4 linked regions of the Homo sapiens genome follow. The protein of the gene in region 3 interacts with the protein of the main gene of each other region in a biochemical or structural test. Each region holds a gene or a part of one and is shown on either strand. Other genes may lie near its edges.

Evidence for each region. Proteins that work in one complex are often made in the same cells at the same time.
Region 1: of the proteins of EPS15 (region 3) and USP8, one has a biochemical effect on the other in vitro, tested with the Homo sapiens proteins (one study listed by BioGRID).
Region 2: the proteins of EPS15 (region 3) and SPATA31E1 interact in a test that uses a peptide from one of them, tested with the Homo sapiens proteins (one large-scale study listed by BioGRID and IntAct).
Region 4: the proteins of EPS15 (region 3) and FCHO2 form a complex in vitro, tested with the Homo sapiens proteins (one study listed by BioGRID).

Annotation. Positions count from the first base shown.
Region 1 is NC_000015.10:50,427,405-50,430,904, forward strand, and holds part of USP8 (ubiquitin carboxyl-terminal hydrolase 8), read left to right. Parts: intron 1-3,500. UniProt on the Homo sapiens protein: Hydrolase that can remove conjugated ubiquitin from proteins and therefore plays an important regulatory role at the level of protein turnover by preventing degradation. Converts both 'Lys-48' an 'Lys-63'-linked ubiquitin chains.
Region 2 is NC_000009.12:87,881,748-87,885,676, reverse strand, and holds the start of SPATA31E1 (spermatogenesis-associated protein 31E1), read right to left. Parts: upstream 2,801-3,929; 5' UTR 2,786-2,800; coding exon 2,477-2,785; intron 1,686-2,476; coding exon 1,631-1,685; intron 1,087-1,630; coding exon 1,026-1,086; intron 765-1,025; coding exon 1-764. UniProt on the Homo sapiens protein: May play a role in spermatogenesis.
Region 3 is NC_000001.11:51,407,767-51,411,266, forward strand, and holds part of EPS15 (epidermal growth factor receptor substrate 15), read right to left. Parts: intron 1,931-3,500; coding exon 1,769-1,930; intron 567-1,768; coding exon 369-566; intron 1-368. UniProt on the Homo sapiens protein: Involved in cell growth regulation. May be involved in the regulation of mitogenic signals and control of cell proliferation. Involved in the internalization of ligand-inducible receptors of the receptor tyrosine kinase (RTK) type, in particular EGFR.
Region 4 is NC_000005.10:73,085,041-73,088,031, reverse strand, and holds part of FCHO2 (F-BAR domain only protein 2), read right to left. Parts: intron 444-2,991; coding exon 279-443; intron 1-278. UniProt on the Homo sapiens protein: Functions in an early step of clathrin-mediated endocytosis. Has both a membrane binding/bending activity and the ability to recruit proteins essential to the formation of functional clathrin-coated pits.

The DNA of each region.
Region 1 (3,500 bases), on a different chromosome or scaffold from region 3:
TATTGGGAGTGATTTACGGAATTTGTTCAAAGTCATATGATTAATAAATGGAAAGTAAGGCCTGCAACAGTTCCATAATATTAAATTTATTAGTACTGAATGATGAAATATTATATTAAACTTATTTGGAATTCTACATTTATAGCCGTACTAATTTTTTTTTTTTTTTTTTTTTTGAGACGGAGTCTTGCTCTGTCTTCTAGGCTGGAGTGCAGTGGTGAGTTCTCGGCTCACTGAAATGTCCGCCTCCTGGGTTTAAGCAATTCTGCTTCAGCCTCCCGAGTAGCTGGGACTATAGGCACCTGCCACCATGCCCGGCTAATTTTTGTATTTTAGTAGAGATGGGGTTTTGCCATGTTGGCCAGGCTGGTCTTGAACTCCTGACCTCAGGTGATCTGCCCGCCTCAGCCTCCCAAAGTGCTGGGATTATAGCCGTGAGCCACCATACCTGGCCCTTTTTTTTTTTAAACTGAGACAAGGTCTTGCTCTGTCACCCAGGCTGGAGTGCAGTGGCATGACCTTGGCTCACTGTAACCTCTGCTTCCTGGGCTCAAGTGATCCTCCTGCCTCAGCCTCCCAAGTAGCTAGGACTGCAGGCACACGCCAGCACACCTGACTAATACCATACTAATTCAAGTAAAACAGTTCTCATGTATAGTGAATAAGGGTTAACTAAGCCTTGTCTCTTTTGACTAACACATTACAATTTAGTTTTTTGTTTGTTTGTTTTTGAGAGGGAGTCTTGCTCTGTCACCTAGGCTGGATGCAGTGGCATGATCTCGGCTCACTGCACCCTCCGTCTGATGGGTTCAAGCAATTCTCCTGCCTCAGCCTCCCAAGTAGCTGGGATCACAGGCATATGCCGCCACGCCCAGCTAATTTTTTGTGTTTTAGTAGAGATGGGGTTTCACTGTGTTGCCCAGGCTGGTCACGAACTCCTGAGCTCAGGCAATCCACCTGCCTCGGCCTCCCAAAGTGCTGGGATTACAGGCGTTAGCTACCACGCCGGGCCTACAATTTAGTTTTTAATAATGCAGCAGTCTTCCTCTTATCTGCAGGGGATATGTTTCAAGACCTCCAATGAATGCCTGAAACCACAGATAGTACTGAACCCTATATATACTATGTTTTCCCTATATATACATTTTTATGATAAAGTTTAACTTATAAATTAGTAACAAGAGATTAACAACAATAACTAATAATAAAATAGAATAATTACAACAATATAGTGTAATAAAAGTTATGCCCTGTGGCCATAACTTGTGCAACTTGAGGTGTGACAGCAAAACTAGCACAAATTTCTTTTTCCTTCATAATTTTGCAGATAAAAGATCTTACCATAGATCTTAGCAACCTCAGCATGAGGTTTTTGGTTTTTTTTCTTATTAGGTTGAGAACTTTCACCTTTTTGCTTAAAGGAAGCAGTTTACAACTTCTTTTTGACATACGTGAATCTCTGCTTTTACACTTTGAAGCCATGATTAAGTAAAATGAGGGTTACTTGAACACAAGCACTGTAATACTGCTATAGTCAGTCTGGTAACTGAGACGGCCACTTAGTGATTAACAGGCAGGTAGCATCTACAGTGTGGATACACTGGACAAAGGGATGATTCATGTCACAGACTGGGCGAAGTGAGGTGGTGCACAATTTAAAACTTATGAATTGTTTATTTCTGGAATTTTTTATTTAATATTCTTGGACTGTGGTTGACTGCAAGTAGCTGAAACCATGGAAAGCGAAACCATGGATAAGGGGGGACTACTACACTAAATTCTGAAACATACCAATAATGGTGTAAACCCACATGTCTTTTTAATAGAGTAAAATGAAATAATTACACATTATAATACCAATTTCAGAACAAGAGTTATGGGCATAAGCATCCTGGAGGTGTTTTTTTTTTTTTTTTTGGAGGTGTTATTTTAATTTCTCAATTACAGAGTTTTAAAAATGAAAATGATTTTTTAAAATTTTGGTAGGTTGAATGATTTAAGATGCTGATTTCAGCTGGAAACAAATTGTTGCCTTCATATTATTTTGTTGCTCCTAGCAGCATGTTTATATTCATTCTTATATTGATGGTTCCCAGTCTTGACTGGTGTTAGAATTCATTTGGGAAGCTTTTTAAAAATACCTATGTGGGCAAGGCGAGGTTGGCTCATGCCTGTAATCCCAGCACTTTGGGAGACCTAGGCAGGAGGATCACTTGAGCCCAAGAGTTTGAGACTATCCTGGACAACATAGTGAGACTCTGTATTTTTTTAAATATATAAATAAGAAAATAAATACCTGTGTGTATGTCTCATCCATAGAGATTCTGATTTAATTGTTTAGGAGTGGGATCTGAGCATCAATATTTTTTTAAAGTTCTCTAGGTAACTGATTCTAACATACAGCTGGGATTGAGAACTATGTTTTTGGTGCATGTTAAGTACGATCTGGCTCCCTACTTAATGATTTTGCATCTGTTAAAAAATTAATGAGGTAGAAGACAAAAGAAATGGATTAAAGTTATAAATGTAGATAGACATCTATTCTGGAAAACAGTTACCCTTTTGTTAGTTTCTGGGAATGGTCCTTAATAAAACAAACAGACATTGGCCTGGTTTGCTAAGTGCCTATATCACAGCATTAAGCCACACTTTACTTTGTTACCGTTATGTACTTAACTTTCATTTTAAGAGGCAGAAACTTTATTAAGAGTTGTATTTTTTTAGTATCCCCTGTATCACAACACTGCACCTTGTGTATAGTAGGTATCTATTGTTTACCTAATTGAAGCCAGTTTAGACAGTCACTCTTTAGAACTAGGGCTAGTTCAGCTCCTTGGGAGGCTGAGGCAAGAGAATCGCTTGAACCGGGGAGGTGGAGGTTTTGGTGAGCCGAGATTGCGCCACTGCTCTCCAGCCTGGACAGCAGAGTGAGACGTCATCTCAAAAAAATAAAGAACTAGGGCTAGTTTATTCTTTTCTTTTCTTTTTTTCTCATGGCATTCTAAGACTCCCCCAATTAGACAGGGTCTCCCTCTATTGCTCAGGCTGGAGTGCAATGGTGTAATCATGGTTCATTGCAAGCTCAACCTCCCAGGCTCAAGGAAGGCCTCAGCCTTCCGAGAAGCTGGGACCACAGGCGCATGCCACCATGCCCTGCTAATTTTTTATTTTTTTATTTTTTTTTTGTAGTGATAAGGTCTCACTGTGTTGCCCAGCAGTTCACCAAATCCTAGATAACATAATTTTGGTGTCAATACTTAATTATCTTCCAAAACAATAGGGATTATCAAAGTCAACATTGATGCCTTATTAGTTGATAAACAGATTTAATATCTGTCTGCTCTCACATATAACTGATTTCTAGTTAATATTTACATCTTAAGATGTTCCTTTGGCATACACTCAACATTTTCCACATCGAATTACCTACTTTGCTGTAAACCAGTGGTTCTTGTTGGGGGTAATTTTGCCTTCCAGGACACATTCGGCAATGACTGTAG
Region 2 (3,929 bases), on a different chromosome or scaffold from region 3:
CCTTCCCCAGTGATGTCATGTGCGGGTGGTCGGCCCGTTTTCTTTCTTTCTCCTGCCACATCTTCATCAGTGCTCTCTTGGCGATGAGGGTCTCCAGCAGCTTCTGCACGTCAGGGTGGATGAATGTGCAGCCACCTACCTCCATGTGCTTGGGTGTGGGGTCTCCCCAGAAGGAAGCCTCTGAGGTGTGGTCGGGAAGATGCCGTGGCTGGGATTTGCCATGTGAGTAGGTGGAGAGGCCCCAGGTGGTGGCAGCCTCCCTCCAGCAATAGAGGTCCCAGATGGGATCGCTGGAGCACCCCAGGCCAGAGATCACCCTGGTTGGAGGAGGCAGCACCTGGTTGTGTAGAGGGGAGCTCTGGGGGACGGGGCATGTTGTGGAGCCACACTGAAGTCCAGCCAGGCTGGAGTCGGGTGGAGGTGGAGAGGAGGCCAGGGGACCATGCGGCTGTGGTGAAGGAGGAAAAACCACATGTGGCTGGGTTGCAGGGCATTTTAGGGGAAGCAAGGGCTCTGGTGGCCCGGAGGCACTCAGGGTTGAGTGTGGTCCAAAAGGCTCTGAGAAGGTCATCGGGCCTGGTGACAGGGTGGAGGCCAGAGGAGCTGGGGGAGCTGGTGGGGACAAGCTGGCAGGAGACGGATCTTGCATGCATTTCCCATGCGGCTGGTGGGCCTTAGCAGGCACTGGTTTACACACGTCCCCCAGGGGGTCTCCACCTAAGGGCAGGTGGGAGCTGCCTTCGCCAGCGAGCTTCCTCAGGTGGCTGCAGGAGACAAGAGGCACAAGCTGCAGCCAGGGGTAGATGGGGCCGGGAAGCTGGGACGGGTGGGCACCTGGGGCCCCCGGTTCCTCCACCTCCCCAACTGCTGACTTCATAAAGCTCTGCCTAAGCCTGCCCCAGGGCTTCAGTCCCCTCCTGTCCCCTTCCCGGGACCTCCCCCTCCCAGATCACCACCAGGCCGTAGGGTTGCATCAGAGGCCCTGGTAGGAAGGAGGACAGGGACAGAAGGGGGAAGCTCCTCACCTTTCCAGAAGGTAGTTCAGGTCCCGAGTCTCCTCCAGCTCCCTCAGGAGGATTCTGCAAGCTGGAAATCAGGAGACAGGGTTATGGTGGAGAGGGCGGTGCCTGGGAACCTCATGGAGGCTGAGTGGATGTCTTTTTAGGGGACACCATGGGGGACTAGACCCTGAAGCCCTCGCATCTGTGTCCGAGGCCACATGGCCCCAATGGTGACAGGAAGGTTTCCACTGTGCAGCACTTTGTCATTTGCAAAAAGTGCTTCCACGTCCACCCCCTCATCGGTGTCACAACCATCTTGTTGGGAGAGCAAATGGGTGGTCTCAAAGAGGAGTCAGCCATTGCTGAGGTGAACAGCTGTCCACATGGACCTGGAGCCTCCCTGACCTCCCCCCATATCCAGGCAGGCCTTGGTCCCTTCCCCACACCGCCCCCTTATGGGCAATACCGGTCCCAGGCCCGTGGCTTCATTCCCGCAGGGAATCTGAGGAGGCCGCAGGTTCTGATTTCTCTCCCAGGAGCTTCCCTCTCAGGCCTCTGCAAATGACTTCCTCAGGGACAGGCAAAGCTCAGTTACCTCTGGGGAGTCCCGGGGGGCAGCAGAGCCTCACCTTTCAGAGCTGAGATCTTCCTGCTCCTGGACCTCCCGCTTCTCTCCCTTTGAGGCTGAGAGGCAAGAAAGGATGAGGGGCTGGGACCAGTTCTCAGTCTCCTCTCCCCAGACCAGCTGCACACACGCAGTGCTCATGAGGGACACGGCTCTCAGCCTCTAGCTCAGGGAGCTCTGTGTGTGCTTTTTACTCATGTTTACCGTGAATGAAATGTTTTCTGTTTTCCTTCTTAGGGAAATGCAAGGAAGGGTTGTCTGTGTGACTCCAACCTGGCTGTCCCCAGTCCCTGCTCCTCCGCTCAAGGAACACCTAGGCTCAGGCCCACAGGCGCCTCTGAGCTGCCAGTAGGATTCTGCTTTGGATGAGAATGGAGAGGAGGCCAGGGTACCATGGGGCTGTGGTGAAGGAGGAAAAAGCACATGTGGCCGGGGTGCAGCCACAGGCGAATCCAGGCTCTACTGGGAGGCTCTCAGGAGCTCAGCACAGCTCCCAGATCACACCCAGATCATACAGAGGAGGCTGGGCCCCCAGGCACCTGCCCCAGGAAGGGGGTGATGAGCCAGGGCTGGGGCCTCTCCTCCCACAGAGACCTCACCCCTCTCCTGACCCGGTCCTTGCCACTGAGTCCAGTGTTGGTTTTTGCCCTGACGCCTCCTGTGCACCCCACAGATGAGCTCGGGATGGAATCCTCTGCCCACTCTCACCCCTGCCTGCCTTGCCCTTCCCTAGAGGGATGACGAGATTTCCCATCACAGAAGGGTCTCACATTGCTTAGGAAAAGTGGAAATGAGGGGAGGAAAAGAAGAGAGAATCTTTCTCTGTGGGGCTGGGCTGAGGACTCCTTACCTCCCTGCTGCTCCTCTTCCTCCCGGGCGGGGGTGAGGGTGGGTCACTGTGGACGTAGAGGAGCAATAGGAAGAGGAGCACTAGGCCACACACACTGGTGAGGATGAAATCCATCATCCAGGGAGTGGAGCTAGGGCTCAGCCATGTGGCACTAGGGCTCTTCAGAGGAAAGAGCATTTTCTCCATCTGAAGTGCAATGTCGTCTCCTGTGCACTCCACAGATGGTCTGGGAGCTGGGGGTGGAATCCTCTGCCCACTCTCAACCCTGCCTGCCCTGCCCTTCCCTAGAGGGATGACGAGATTTCCCATCGCCTTCAAGCAACTGAGCTCTGGGCATCCCCTTTGGGACTAGGGACTGGGGCCCAGGCTTGTATCACACAGCTGGGGCCTCCTCCTCACAAAGGGCTCCTGGGGGTGGGGGAGGGGCAGTGGGAGGAGGAGGCTGAAGCACAGCCCCGCCCTCAGCTCCCAGCCCCCAGTCCCTCCACCCTCCTGGGTCCCCCAAATCGCTCCTTCCCACTCCAGCTGCTCACCCTGTCAGAGACAGTCCTCAGTCCATTTTCTATTCTCTTCCCCTGGAACACAGGTGTCACCTGGCTCTCCTTGTACCTTGGAGATCTAGGCCTGAGCCCACCCATTTCATAGCCTTTGAAACTGTGAAATTCTCCTAGGAATTTAGGTGGTTTCTTAAGGATTATTTCAGAATCTCCTCTGTTTTTGTAATTTTCCCACACCTTACATTTTCTACTTTCATCAACCCAGAATAGAACTCTTAAATTTACAAAACTAAAAAGTATAAAAATTACAAATAATTAAACCTCCAAATGACATTTTTATATTAGGAACATAATTTTGAGTTACCGAATTATGGAGCTTGCTGTAAAAAAACCTCAAACACTTTGACAAATTATTTTCAAAACAATAATTAAGCCTTTACTTATTTTCTTTAGATCTTTCATATGTTGTCCTGATCCATTTTTTCTTTCTCTGCCCCAAATACAGTCCTCACTTTCCTAAGTTTTGGAACATGTGTGCTCCACCATGAGCCAGGAGTGGTTTGGGGTGATCTGAGGTCCAGCTCCTTTGGGTGGAGAGCGGGACTGGGCATTCCGTGCCAGGCTCAAGTCCAGTGTTCAGCAGACTCTTCTGAGATCACTCGTGTCCTCCGTACATATTCTTTTTTTTTTTTTTTTTGAAACGGAGTCTCACTCTGTTGCCCAGGCTGGAGTGCAGTGGCATGATCTCGGCTCACTGCAACCTCTGCCTCCTGGGTTCAAGCGATTCTCCTGCCTCAGCCTCCCAAGTAGCTGGGACTACAGAAGTGTGCCACCATGCCCAGCTAATTTTTGTATCTTTAGTAGAGACCAGGTTTCACCATAGTGGCCAGGCTGGTCCTGAACTCCTGAGCTTGTGATCCGCCCGCCTCGGCCTCCCATTTGTATTCTCTGCTCCA
Region 3 (3,500 bases):
TTTGCCTCATTAATCCTCACAGTGGCCCTAAGGGGTAGGGTATTTATTAATCCTCCAATTTTGAAGATGAAGAATCTGATACTAAGGTGATTTAGCTAGTAAGTGGCACACCAGTACTTAAACCTAGACCATCTAGCCACAAAGCCCACACTCTTAATCACTACTCCAATGATAATCATCAGATAGATATACAAGATGTATGATAGTTTCAATATATAACAGGTGACAAAAAAACCTATTGTATAAAATGACTGAAAAATGAACAGTAAACTAGGCAAGAGGTTGAAGGAGCAGAAGTTGGAAAGTATAACTGACTAAAGGACACAGAGGATCCATTTGAATATATTTCTTGCTTTACAAAGACTTACTGAACTAATTTCCTGTTGTGAATCTTGTAGGTGCTGCTGAAGAGGTTCCAACTGAGCCTTCCCTGACTCTACACTCTCCTCCAATTCTGCTGTTTCTTGCTGTAGACGGCTCAGCTCTTCTCTAGCTTTTGCCAATTCTTCTTCGTAAGTGGAGATCTGCGATTCCTGACTAGTTAATTCAGCTTTCAGAGAAGAGATCTATAATGTGAAAGTGAATGAGAAGAAATGGGGATTAAAAGAAGAGATGTCATTAAAATGTTCCAAAATGCAATACATTTATTTGTTTAGTTTACTATTTTGGTGTTTTTTTTGACAGCAATAGCAAATAATTTATTTAATTTAATTTTTGAGAGAGAGAGTCTTGCTATGTTGCCCAGGCTGGATTCAAACTCCTGGGCTCAAGTGATCCTCCTGAGTAGCTGGGACTATAGGAACATGCCCAGCCATACCTAGCCCTATTATGGAGTTTTTGATGTTGTTGTTGTTGTTGATGTTTTATTTTTTTGAGACAGTCTCACTCTGTCACCCAGGCTGGAGTGCAATGGCACGATCACAGCTCACTTCAGACTTCAGGCTCAACTTTCCCAGGCTCAGGTGATCCTCTCACCTCAGCCTCTCGAGTAGGTGGGATTACAGATGTGGGCCACCACGCCTGGCTTTCAATTTTTTTTTTTTTTTTTTTTGAGACAGAGTCTCGCTCTGTTGCCCAGGCTGGAGTGCAGTGGCGTGATCTCAGCTCACTGCAAGCTCCGCCTCCTGGGTTCACACCATTCTCCTGGCTCAGCCTGCCGAGTAGCTGGGACTACAGGCACCCGCCACCGCCCTGGCTAATTTTTTGTATTTTTAGTAGAGACGGGGTTTCACCGTGGTCTCGATCTCCTGACTTCGTGATCCGCCTGCCTCGGCCTCCCAAAGTGCTGGGATTAAAGGCGTGAGCCACTGCACCCAACCAGCTTTCATATTTTTTGTAGAGATGGGATTTCTCCATGTTTCCCAGGCTGGTCTCCAACTCCTGGGCTCCAGCAATTCCCCCCGCCTCAGACTCCCAAAGTGTTGGGATTACAGGTGTGAGCCACTGTGCCCAGCCAATTATGATGTTTTTTGATGTATGGTTTTCGTAAAGAAGGGTAACTGGGGGAGGGACAGAGGAGAGTTGAAGGTATAGGCACCATATTTCCAACAAAAATTTGGAAAAACAGTTCATTAACTGCCCTTCTATTTCCTCTAAAGAAGGCCTGTAATTTCTGGATGAACCTTGCTCCATCGCCCCCATGAACCCAAATGCTGACTGGATTGCCAACCACCACCATCAATAACAAAAAGTAGAGAATGTTTTCATCTTAAGCCAGGAAAAGCAACTAATGTATAGGTGCAGGCAGCAGGAAACAGCCAGACATTACCAGTTGGGCCTCCTCAGCACATTTCTTTCTGACTTCCTTGAGTTGCTCCTCCAGCTGGGCTTTCTGCTCATCCAGTTCATCAAGGAGTTCCTGTACCTGCTGTTTCTGGGCCTGTAGTTTTTGCAGATTAGTATTCTCCCTTTGAACTTCATCTTGAAGATCCTAAAATCCAAGAAAATTAATATATTTATTTTCTTTGCGGGCAGGGGAGGGTTAAGTTAGTAATTTTAAATCTACCTTAAGAAAGAATAAAGTCTTACTGAGTATACTGTGTTGATGAGACTAGGGTACTTAACAGCTTTAAATACAATCTTTACTTGAAGACATCTTTCCTAGAATCCATATTTAGATATTCAATTTGCTAACTCAAATCTGTCCTTGGACATGTGATGGGCTTTGCTAACATGTTGAAAATAGAACTCCTGGAATTTCCCCACAAATCTGTTTTAAGCTCAATCTTTCCCCTCTCAGATTCTCTGGTCAAAAAAAAACCCCACATGGAGAAACCCTGTCTCTAACAAAAATGCAAAAAAAAAAAAAAAAATTTAGCTGGGCGTGGTGGCGCATGCCTGTAATCCCAGCTACTCGGGAGGCTAAAGCAGGAGAATTGCTTGAACCCAGGAGGTGGAGGTTGCAGCGAGCCGAGATCATGCATTGCACTCCAGCCTGGGCAACAAGAGTGAAACTCCATCTCAAAAAAAAAAAAATTAGCTGGACGTGGTAGTACGTGCCTGTGGTCCCAGTTACTTGGGAGGCTGAGATGGGAGGATCTCTTGAGCCCAGGAGGTCAAGGCTGCAGTGAGCTGTGATCATGCCACAGCATGCCCAGACTGGGCAACAGAGTGAGACACTGTCTCCAAAAAAAAAAAAAAGAAAAATTAATTCCAGGTAAATAATGGACCTGAATGTAAAAGTCTAACTTTAAAATGTGTAGAAGAAATGCAGATCTCAGTGTAGGAAAAGATTTCTTAAAACAAAAAAAGAACCATTTTGAAAATGTTATTTATTCATCCATGTACATACCAGACCTCATGCTTAATAACAAGAACTACAGAAATTTTTAAAAAGCCAGGCGCAGTGGCTCAGGGATTAATAACTCCGAAGTATCTGTCAGCAGGAGGTAGGCAAAGATTTCAAAGCGGGTGAGGTAAAACTGAACACAAATTTCTAAAAATAATATCTATTCAAAGGTCCCAACAGTCATTCACCAGAATAAGAATCTAAGAACAGAAGAGAAACTTACAGGTAAAAGGTCTCTGAATTACTGCATAGGTTACACAAGATAGCACCATTATGATAATAGCCAACACTTTAAATGCTACTTAAAATGTGCTAGGTTGTGCTCTAGGCTCTTTAAATATACTAACTTATTTATAGTCTATATGACAGATCTACGAGTTAGGTACTGATATCATTTCATATTTTACAGATGAGAAAACTGAAGTACTGATGTGTAGGTAATGTGTCCAAAGTTAAAAATAGTAAGCTATGGATTCAAAGTGGGTTCTGACTCCACAGCCTGAGCTCTTAACCACCATGTGACATACCATCTGCAGACTAAATGTCTCACATGTGTCACTATTTTTCAAATATATGCAGATGTTTCTGTGATTAAATAGAACACTGAACAATGCTTTCAATAATTGCTTTTTATCTTATATTTTCTTAACCAACTGGTTAGTCTAAAAATATCATGTTGCTTTCTTTAAAAAATTCCTTTAAAGCCCAGGCA
Region 4 (2,991 bases), on a different chromosome or scaffold from region 3:
TCAAATGCACTCTAAGGACATTTTCCACTGTGGTTACCAATACAAAACTCTAGTTCCCATCTGCTATTTACAGTACATTAGAATCAGATAACAGGTGTTCAGCTATACTGACCGTAAGAACTCTCTCCCAGGTGTGTCTCTACCTGGCACCTTGTACCAAGGGTTAAAGAAAAAATTTCCATGTCTTTAGATTATAAATTGCTTGACAGTTTTTTAATAACTGTTAGAATACAAATGTTTCCCATGTACATTAAAAAGTTTGAAATCTCCTAACTTACCAGTAGCAAACCGCTTCTTTATTAAGGAAAGCCTATAGCCAGTGCCCACAAGTTCGAAATCTACTCCTGAAAGGGTACTTCCCTCGCTGAGGAATTGTACTGCAAGTGTCGTGGGTTTACTAGGTCCTTCTGAAAGATCAAATTTTGCTCGGAGGGACCCAGAACCTACAAAGAAAAGAATAAAGCACTTACACAGGGTAAAATACATTTCAAACAAAATAGAATCAAATGAGCAAGTAAGCTAAACTACATCAGTCCTGTGCTACATTCATTAGATGTGCACAGTAAACAAACTATTATCCTGTTTCCAAATCTCATATTTTTTAGTGAATATCAATTTTCATTAAGTAAATAACCCATGCTTTTCTTTGACTCAATACTAATCTTCAGAGATGTTAACTACTGGACTCCTATGCTATATGCATGTTGAGGCGAGTCAAAAGAGAAGAAGGAAGTAACTGAGGACAGCCCAGAGAAAAACCCTAGGAGGGATATAGGTGGCATAAAGTTAAAAAAGAAATGACTACTGAGTAGTAGAAGAAGTAAAGATGGAAAGGTAACTACGGTTGGGAAGAGTTGTATAACATTGCTATTTTCTATTCACTTTTCTTTTTAAAGTTTTACTGGTCTAACATAATGCCAAGTAGGTATTTCTGAGGTGTTTTGTTTCTAGTATCATCACCATTTATTCAGTATACTTCAGTCTAATGGAATGGCAGGAACAGTAAACCAATAATTATAATGAATATTATAAATGCTGTAAAGGAGCTCTGAGGAGCTACAGGCACAAAAGCACCTATCTCAGCTGAAAATTATAAATGGTGGTGGGGATGATGGTGTGTATTTTAGGCAGAAGTTACCAAAGATACAGAGACAGAGCATGATGCATTTAACGAAATAGCATCTATATCAGATTAGCAGGAGAACAGGATACAGGTAGAGGGGAGTGGCAGATGAGACTAGAGTGGTAGCATGGGCCAGGCCATGGTAAGAAATTCATGATGTAACCATGGGAAGTCACCAAAGATAAGGAAGACAAGAACATTTCAGATTAGTGTCTCAAAAGGGAAGAGAAGCACAAGATGCAAGGTTGGGAGACCAACTGCAAGTCAAAACAGTTTAGGACTCTAGATGATAGGAAAGGGGGATCTGAACTAGGGCTAATAAAAAGGAAAGATATTAAGAAAGTTATTTGAAAGATATTTAGGAGTTGGAATCAAGAAATGAGAAAGGAGGAGTCTAGGAGGGTTCCCAGGTTTCTGGATAGAGCAAATGGACAGAAATGCTAGGTACTAGCAGTAAGATCCTGTGATCCCCTGCACAGAAGCTTAACACTACACAGAGAAATGGAGAATAGGATGTCACAACATTGATCCAACTTGTATTATTATGCCTGGAGGCATAGATCAGTAGTGGAGATGAACTGCTGCCTTATTCTTAATTACTATCCAGGCCCTCAAACTTTTACAATTCTTGATAACCAATTTGGTTGTGCAAAAGTTCTACCATAGACCAAGAGCAACAACCTTGACAATCACCTTAGAAATATTTCCTGTCCCTCTTCTGAGTACACAGTCAGCAACAGAAAACAGATTTCTATTTTACAGAATTTTTTGTGTTTTTTTTTTTTGAGACAGAGTCTCTCACTCTGTTGCCTAGGCTGGAGTGCAGTGGCACGATCTTGGCTCACTGCAACCTCCGCCTCCTGGGTTCAAGCGATTCTCCTGCCTCAGCCTCCTGAGTATCTGGGATTACAGGCGCACACCACCATGCCTGGCTAATTCTGTATTTTTAGTAGAGACAGGGTTTCACCATATTGGCCAGGCTGGTCTTGAATTCCTGACCTCATGATCCACCCGCCTCAGCCTCCCAAAGTGCTGGGATTTCAGGTGTGAGCCACCGTGCCCAGCCTATTTTACAGCATTCTTATTTATTTATTTATTTATTTATTTATTTATTTATTTATTTATTTATTTTTTGAGACAGAGTCTCCCTCTAAGGCCCAAGCTGGAATACAGTGGTGCAATCTTGGCTCACTGAAACCTCTGCCTCCCAGGTTCAAGCTAGACTCGTGCCTCAGCCTCCTGAGTAACTGGGACTACAGGCACGTGCCACCACACTTGGTTAATTTTTGTATTTTTAGTAGAGGCAGGGTTTTGCCACATTGTCTAGGCTGGTCTCCAACTCCTGGCCTCAAGTGATCCACCTGCCTCAGCCTCCCAAAGTGCTGGGATTGCAGGAATGAGCCACCATGCCTGGCCTTGGATATTCTTTTCAAAGGCTTGACTAACCACATCAAAAACCACATTTATAAGATTTTTCCATTTCCTCACAGAAACACCTGATACCTGAATAGCAGAGGGAAACTTAAAATCTGGTTAGAAAATTTGTATCTCATTTTTTTATTTTTTGAGACGGAGTCTCTGCGCCAGGCTGGAGGGCAGTGGTGCGATGTTGGCTCACTGCAACCTCCACCTCCCGTGTTCAAACAATTCTCCTGCCTCAGCCTCCCGAGTAGCTGACACTACAGGCACGTGCCACTACATCCAGCTAATTTTTGTATTTTTAGTAGAGACAGGGTTTCACCATGTTGGCCAGGATGGTCTCGATCTCTTGACCTCACGATCTACCTGCCTTGGCCTCCCAAAGTGCTGGGATTACAGGCATGAGCCACTGCACCCAGCCTGTGTCTTATTTTTGAGAGAACAAATTT